Linked DNA regions of Homo sapiens. The protein of the gene in region 1 interacts with the protein of each later gene in a pairwise test. Each region holds a gene or a part of one and is shown in the gene's direction. Other genes may lie near its edges.

Evidence for each region. The genes of interacting proteins can lie anywhere in the genome.
Region 2: the proteins of HNRNPH3 (region 1) and PSME3 interact in binary tests that used the Homo sapiens proteins (3 or more experiments, as listed by UniProt).

The regions. Positions count from the first base shown.
Region 1 is NC_000010.11:68,330,388-68,333,987, forward strand, and holds the start of HNRNPH3 (heterogeneous nuclear ribonucleoprotein H3), read left to right. Parts: upstream 1-1,676; 5' UTR 1,677-1,829; exon of another isoform or gene 1,830-1,848; intron 1,849-2,396; exon of another isoform or gene 2,397-2,715; intron 2,716-3,600.
Region 2 is NC_000017.11:42,836,276-42,840,098, forward strand, and holds part of PSME3 (proteasome activator complex subunit 3), read left to right. Parts: intron 1-1,373; coding exon 1,374-1,422; intron 1,423-1,817; coding exon 1,818-1,930; intron 1,931-2,416; coding exon of another isoform or gene 2,417-2,455; coding exon 2,456-2,524; intron 2,525-2,669; coding exon 2,670-2,737; intron 2,738-2,836; coding exon 2,837-2,891; intron 2,892-3,018; coding exon 3,019-3,105; intron 3,106-3,823. UniProt on the Homo sapiens protein: Subunit of the 11S REG-gamma (also called PA28-gamma) proteasome regulator, a doughnut-shaped homoheptamer which associates with the proteasome. 11S REG-gamma activates the trypsin-like catalytic subunit of the proteasome but inhibits the chymotrypsin-like and postglutamyl-preferring (PGPH) subunits.

The DNA.
Region 1 (3,600 bases):
CAGGCTTCCCAATGTCTGTACCACAAAGTTGAAAGTCTTTTGGCCGGACATTGAAGATTGTCTACAATCTAGCTTCATCCACATTTCTAACATTACCCCATCTTCCTGACACCCCACGTATGTTCCTACCTTTGTACTTGAACTTGCACTGATTTTTTTGGGGGGGAAAGGGAGGTGGGACGGAGTCTCGCTCTGTCGCCCAGGCTGGAGTGCGGTGGCGCGATCTGGGCTCAATGCAAGCTCTGCCTCCCGGGTCCACGCCATTCTCCTGCCTCAGCCTCCTGAGTAGCTGAGACTACAGGGGCCCGCCACCACGCCCGGCGTGTGTGTGTGTGTGTGTGTGTGTGTGTGTGTGTGTGTGTGTGTGTGTATTTTTAGTAGAGACAGGGTTTCACCGTGTTAGCCAGGATGAACTTGCACTGATCTCTTTACCAGGCTTCCCCTTAACCCTCTGCGCAGAAATTCGGGGTTTTTCTTTGTGTTTGAGACAAGAGTCTCCCTCGGTCTCCCAGACTGGAGTGCACTGGCGCAATCACGGCTCACTGCAGCCTCAACTTCCAGGGCACAAGCCATCCTTTTGCCCAGCCTCCTGTGTAGCTGGGACTACTCGGGAGTCCCATCTACTCCCGTGCGCTGCCATCACGCCCAGCTAATCTTTGTATTTTTTGTAGAGACAGCACCTCACTATGTTGCCCAGGCTGGTCTCCAACTCTTACGCTCAAGCGATCCTCCCCCTCGGCCTCTCAAAGGCGTAAGCCACCGCGGCCAGCCTTTTTTGGAACTTAAAAAAAAAGCCATAATGTGTCATTAGGAACCTTGGTGACATGACAGCAAAACCAAAATGTACTTATTTATTAGGTGTCACTTGGAAGCGCAATTTTCAACAACGCAAAACTATAAAAAAAACCCAACGTCGGCCTCCACAGGCTAATCAGTCTCCGAGGCACTGACGGCGGGAGAGATGAAAACGCGAAGGCCAGAGGAGAAAAAGAGGAAGGATTTGCAGAGAGAACGGTAACGTGGTGGACATGAATACACCCAAGAAACCCGGATCCCGCGCGGCACATTGGGACGAAGCGCGCTGGCGGGCGGCCAGCAACTCTGGGCCAGGGGAAGGAGGCGGACACCCAGCCCGAGAGCCGAAATCGGCCCCAGTGGACGCTTTCATCTTCGCGGCCCAGAAACACTCCTATTTTTCACCGCACAATGCAAACATGGTGGACCAGAAAATCCGCCCCGCGTTTGCCGGTCGAACCACGTGGGGCCCTTTCCGCGCCGTCGATGCCTAGCCAGGGCGGGGCCCTCACAGAATTTGTTCACGGTGGGGGCAGATCACCGGAGAACTTCTCCAGAGCGCTACGGCACGGTTCCTTCTACACACTGGCAGAACTGCCATTGCCATCGCCCCGAGGCGGCAGAATGGTACGCTCTGAAAACTGGATGGTTCTAACGTAAGCAAGAAAAACGGTGCGCGCTGCAGCTCTTTAACTGGAACAGCCTCTGCTCGGTCTACCTCGCCCCCAACAGCTGCGCAACCCACCACCGCGCAGGCGCGCTGCGTGCCGCCAGCGCCATGCGAAACCGACTTTCCCGTCTCGCGAGAGTGGGGCCGGCCGCCTTCGCAGTTCTCGCTCCGCCCCCCACTTCTTGCTCGTTCCCTCCCATCCCCCCAAGCCAGTAGCTGTGCTGCGCAGCTCCCTAAGCGGTTGTCACCGCTGGAGACGGTTGGGAGAACCGTTGTGGCGAGCGCTACACGAGGCAAACGACTTCTCCCTTCTTTGAACTGGACCCCGCGAGCACCAGAGTCGGCGTAACTATCGCCTGACAGGGTATCTGAAGTAAAAGGGGGTAGGTTGGGCTGGTGGTTTCGAGAGCGGAGTCGGGAGAAGGACGAAAGGCCGGGAGGGGCTGGGTTGGGGGGTAGTGGGGTGGTCGCCGCTCGGAGGCCGCCGCTTGGAAGCGGCGGGGCTGCGCCTCCCCGACCATCTCCCACTTCAGGGAGGGCGGCTTGCCGATGGGAGGACTTGCTCAGGTGGAATTCAGTGGACGACGCCGAGGCCCGAAGTAGGGGACATCCAGCATTTTCCCCTTTCCCTGCTGGCTTGGCCTCCGCCATTTTGGGTACAGTGGCGCGGCCACCTCGGCTTCCCGCCCTTCCCCGCTCTTTTTACTTTTTTGTTCCCCAGCTTCCGAAAACTGATCTAGAAGGCCAGGGGAGGGGGTGGTCAAAGCTCCCTGGAAGGGATGAGGGTGGGTAGTGAAGCGAGCAGGGAAAGGCCGGGCAGTTGGGTGGAGGGAGGATCGGGTTTGCCGGGCGCGCTCCCGATGGAAATGGCGCCGGATGGGCCTGGCCTCCCACCGCGGCCTCCCTTCCTCCGCAGTCTCGGCAGGGCTACCTGGGCTGACGGGACTGCGAGTGACTTCTGACGCAGATTCCCAAGATGAGAGAGGCTGGAGCTGGGGGAGGAAAGCCAATGGCGACGAAGGTGCTCAACTCCCAAATCCAGGACAAAGGAGGCAGACGGCCTCCTTTGTAATTCTGCCGCCCGGTGGCGAAGGGTTTTAAGCCAGGCTTGGCTGCTGACGGGAGGGGGAAGGGGCGTACTCTCCCTAGCTTTCTGGTCTCTAGGGCAGCTAGATAAACGGAAAGTCTCCTGGGAGGAATAAAGGACGCTTAGCCGGCCCTTATATTCCAGATTTGGAACTTCGAAAAGAGTACGTACTGATTTTCCAAAGGGTTTTTTTTTTTTCATGTTTAAACGTTAATAAGGACTTCGGGGATGATTTTGTGAGCAGAAAAGTGGGTGATTTATCAAATAGGAATGTGAAATGGGCATGTTTCAAGTAGGTCGTCTGGGCCCAGTGAACTATAATTGTTGCTTTTTGAACTTTCGGGGTGGGGGTGGGTGATGTAGCAATTGTTTTGCGTAGTTTGGCGTATATATGTTAGAATTTGTTTTTAAGTTTTACTTTTGGGAAACAGTTAAAACAACCCAGTGATGGTAGATGTGTGTGTATTGAAATTGAGCTTTCGATGTTAAATCTTCCAAGAGTTGTATTTTGTGCAGTTTTTTTTTCCGATGGCATTAAGGCTCTAGAAGTAAAATACTTCAAAATACGGTTATGGTTTATTTTCTTTTGGTAGCTAGGCATGTTTTTTCTTTAGTGTAGGAGTATAGTACACTGTAATCGTATTTTAAACAAGGGAATAAGCCTACTAAACATAAAAACAAATTGTAAACCCAGTCACGTGGTGGTGGTGTGATTCGGATGAGGGTCCTGAGAACTGGATCCGTAATTTTCATTGAAGACAGTACAAAAGGGAGGAGAAAGGCCTGAGAGTAAGAATTTCTGATAATTCATGTAAAACTTTATAAGAATATTGTTACCTACTTTTCCAGCTCTAAAAACAAAAACTTATTATTATTGAAGATGTTCAGTGATGCTTTCTCAAGATTGCCAAGGAAAAGTTTACGAAAATCTTACCTTGAAACAGTAGGTTTGAGTGACCCTTTGAAGAGATAGTCCAGACTGTCCTGTAAAGTTATATATGATATAACAAATAGCTTTACTAATTGGATTGGACTACACATCTTTTTT
Region 2 (3,823 bases), on another chromosome or scaffold:
ATTACAGCCATGAGCCATCGTGCTCGGCCGGCAGGAGCTATCTTAATCTTTGTATTCCCAGCACCTAGTGTTGATCCTGGTCCCTAGCAATTGCTGAATACATGTTTGTTAACTGAATAATGTGTTCCTTTGTGGAACCAGCAGATTTGTACGTATTCCCTTAATTATCTTCCCTGCTTTGATTGGTTCTTTTTTCCTATTCTTTATAATACTTAATGTATTGTGTTTCTGGAAAGATTGGTCTTCCCAACTAGAGCGTAATTTGCTTTGTGGTAAGAACCTTTTCTTTCTTTCTCTGAGGGGGAACCCAGTCTCACTCTGTCACCCAGGTTGGAGTGCAGTGGCTTAATCTCAGCTCACTGCAACCTCAAACTCCTGGGTTCAAGTGATCCTCCTACCTCAGCCTCCCAGGTAGCTGGGACTACAGGTACATGTGCCATCACATTCAGCTAGTTTTTGTATTTTTTGTGGAGACAGGGTTTCCCTATGTTGCCCAGGCTGGTCTCAAGCTCCTGAGCTCAAGCGATCTGTGTGCCTTGGCCTCCCAAAGTGCTGGGATTACAGGTGTGAGCCATGGCGCCCAGCCCAAGAACCTTTTCTTTATTTCCTTTTTTTTTTTTTTGAGGTGGAGTTTCACTCTTGTCACATAGGCTGGAGTGCAGTGGCACAATCTCGGCTCACTGCAACCTCTACCTCCCAGGTTCAAGCAATTCTCCTGCCTCAGCCTTCCGAGTAGATGGGATTACAGGTGCCTGCCACCACACCCGGCTAATTTTTTTTATTTTTATTTTTTGGAGATGGAGTCTTGCTCTGTTGCCCAGGCTGGAGTGCAGTGGTGCAATCTCGGCTCACTACAACCTCTGCTTCCTGGGTTCAAGCAGTTCTCTGCATCAGCCTCCCAAGTAGCTGGGATTATAGGTGCTTGCCACCACGCCCAGCTAATTTTTGTATTTTTAGTGGAGATGAGGTTTCACTGTCTTGGCCAGGCTGGTCTTGAACTCCTGACCTTGTGATCCACCTACCTTGGCCTCTTAAAGTGCTGGGATTACAGGCATGAACCACCGCGCCTGGCTAACTTTTTGTATTTTTAGTAGAGATGGGGTTTCACTATGTTGGCTAGGCTGGTCTCAAACTTCTGATCTCAGGTGATCTGTCCACCTCGGCCCCCCAAATTGCTGGGATTACAGGCATGAGCCACCGCGCCTTGCCTCCAATAACCTTTCTTAAAGCTTTGTATGTACTTAGGAAATTGTGCAGAAATTAATAACATAAGCTATGAGGCTGAGGAAGGGATTAAACTTGCTTGAAGGGTATCTTGTGATGGAGATGTGGGTGTCAAAACTAGGCTCATCCCTGCCTCTTTGTATCCTTAGCCCACTTATAAGAAGCGAAGGTTGGATGAGTGTGAAGAAGCCTTCCAAGGTAAGAGGCACCCTTACCTCACCTCCCCTCACCCCATCCCTGACTTGCAACCCTGAGAAGCAGGATGGATCTAGTGTTCTCCTGACCAGGAGGCAAGATCTAATCTTACTTCCCAGAGGTAGCATTCCCAGCTCCTCCAAACGTGCTTGTTATTGAGTGCTCTAAACCTGGTTTTCCAATAAACAGAGGATTTAAGACTTTTGTTATGTTTTAGACGCTCATCTGTAGTTCTTTTTTTCCATACATTCTCGTTGATTCTAATAGTGGTGTCATGGTAGGATTGTGACAAAGGCAGAGGTCATAGCATCTGATAGGTATAGGGAAAATGAGAGAGAGGCAGGGGATGCTGTGTCCTTCCCTCTTCCCTGATCATTTGACCTTCACATCTCTGCCAGGAACCAAGGTGTTTGTGATGCCCAATGGGATGCTGAAAAGCAACCAGCAGCTGGTGGACATTATTGAGAAAGTGAAACCTGAGATCCGGCTGTTGATTGAGAAATGTAACACGGTGAGGCACAGGCTGGTGACCTATGGGCCGGCCCCAAGTACCCCACCTGAAGTGCAAAAAACAGTGGATGTACGGGTGGTATGGGAATTGGCAGACTAGGTTTTTTTGAGTTTTTTTTTTGAGATGGGGTCTCGCTCCATCACCCAGGTTGGAGTGCAGTGGCGCCATCTCGGCTCACTGCAACCTCTGCCTCCTGGGTTCAAGTGATTCTCCTGCCTCAGCCTCCCGAGTAGCTGGGATTACAGGTACCTGCCAACACACCCAGCTACTTTTTGTATTTTTAGTAGAGACGGGGTTTCACCATTTTGGCCATGGTTAGCCAGGCTGGTCTCGAACTCCTGACCTCAGGTGATCCACCCGCTTCGGGGTCCCAAATTGCTGGGATTACCGGCATGAGCCACCATGCCTGGCCAGACTAGGTATTTTGACTTCTGTGTTCCTGGCATCTGGCTCCAGCCGTCTGAATTGTGTACTTCATGGCTTCAGCCTTCAGGCAAAGGTCCTCATATATGTTTTGACCTCCAGGTCAAAATGTGGGTACAGCTCCTGATTCCCAGGATAGAAGATGGAAACAACTTTGGGGTGTCCATTCAGGTAATGTACTTGAATTACATACTGGGAAGAGTGGCTTGGGAGATACTCTCATCTCCCCTGCGTTACCTTTTTTTCCTTTTTCTTTGGGGCTGCTGTGGATGACATGGAAGTGGCTTTTGATGCACCTGTTGTTTGTTTGTTTTAGGAGGAAACAGTTGCAGAGCTAAGAACTGTTGAGAGTGAAGCTGCATCTTATCTGGACCAGATTTCTAGGTAGGGCTGCTTGGGCTTGGCCGAGGCGTTGGGGGCTGATGAGGTGGTGGGCACCATCAAGGGTCTCCTGCATCTTCCTCCTCTTCTCTCTCTTTCCAGATATTATATTACAAGAGCCAAATTGGTTTCTAAAATAGCTAAATATCCCCATGTGGTAAGTAAGGGGTTTGTGGCCTGAGGGTGGAGGTGGCAGGATAGTGAAGAGTGACTGTTACTGGGAAGGAGCTGTCTGGAAACAATTGGGCTTTGGGGACTAGCTTTTTCCTGTACCCTCCTTGCAGGAGGACTATCGCCGCACCGTGACAGAGATTGATGAGAAAGAATATATCAGCCTTCGGCTCATCATATCAGAGCTGAGGAATCAATATGTGAGTAATCTCAGTCCTTGTCCATAGTTGCTGTGGCTTCTCTTAGTTCTGTTGAGAGTATTGTTAAAATTCTCTGAAGGGCTGAGATGAGGGTCTGAGGTAAAATGAATAGACCAAATTCTATTCATCACCTGAGTGTTGAGAACCATGAAGTCATCTAGCAGGGTATCTCTCTTTTTTCTACCTGAGTGGAGGGGTGTGCAGTACAATATGGTTAAGATATAGGTGTCAGAGTCAGACAGACTTAGGTTTGCAACCAGGCTCTACCTGTGTTGTGTGACCTCGAGCAAATTGTTCAAGCTTAAACTTCAATTTCTTCTTTAAAATGGGACTGGGCTGGGCGCAGTGGCTAATGCCTGTAATCCCACCACTTTGGGAGGCCAAGCCGGGTGGATCACCTGAGGTCAGGAGTTCGAGACCAGCCTGATCAACATGGCGAAAGCTCGTCTCTACTAAAAATACAAAATTAGCCGGGCCTGGTGGCACATGTCTGTAATCCCAGCTACTTGGGAGGCTGAGGCAGGAGAATCACTTGAACCCGGGAGTTGGAGGTTGCGGTGAGCCAAGATTGCTCCATTGCACTCCAGCCTGGGCAACAAGAGCGAAACTCCATCTCAAAAAAAAAATAAAAATAGGCTGTAATCCCAGCACTTTGGGAGGCCAAGGTGGGTGGATCACTTGAGGTCAGGAGTTCGAGACCAGCCTTACCAACATGGAA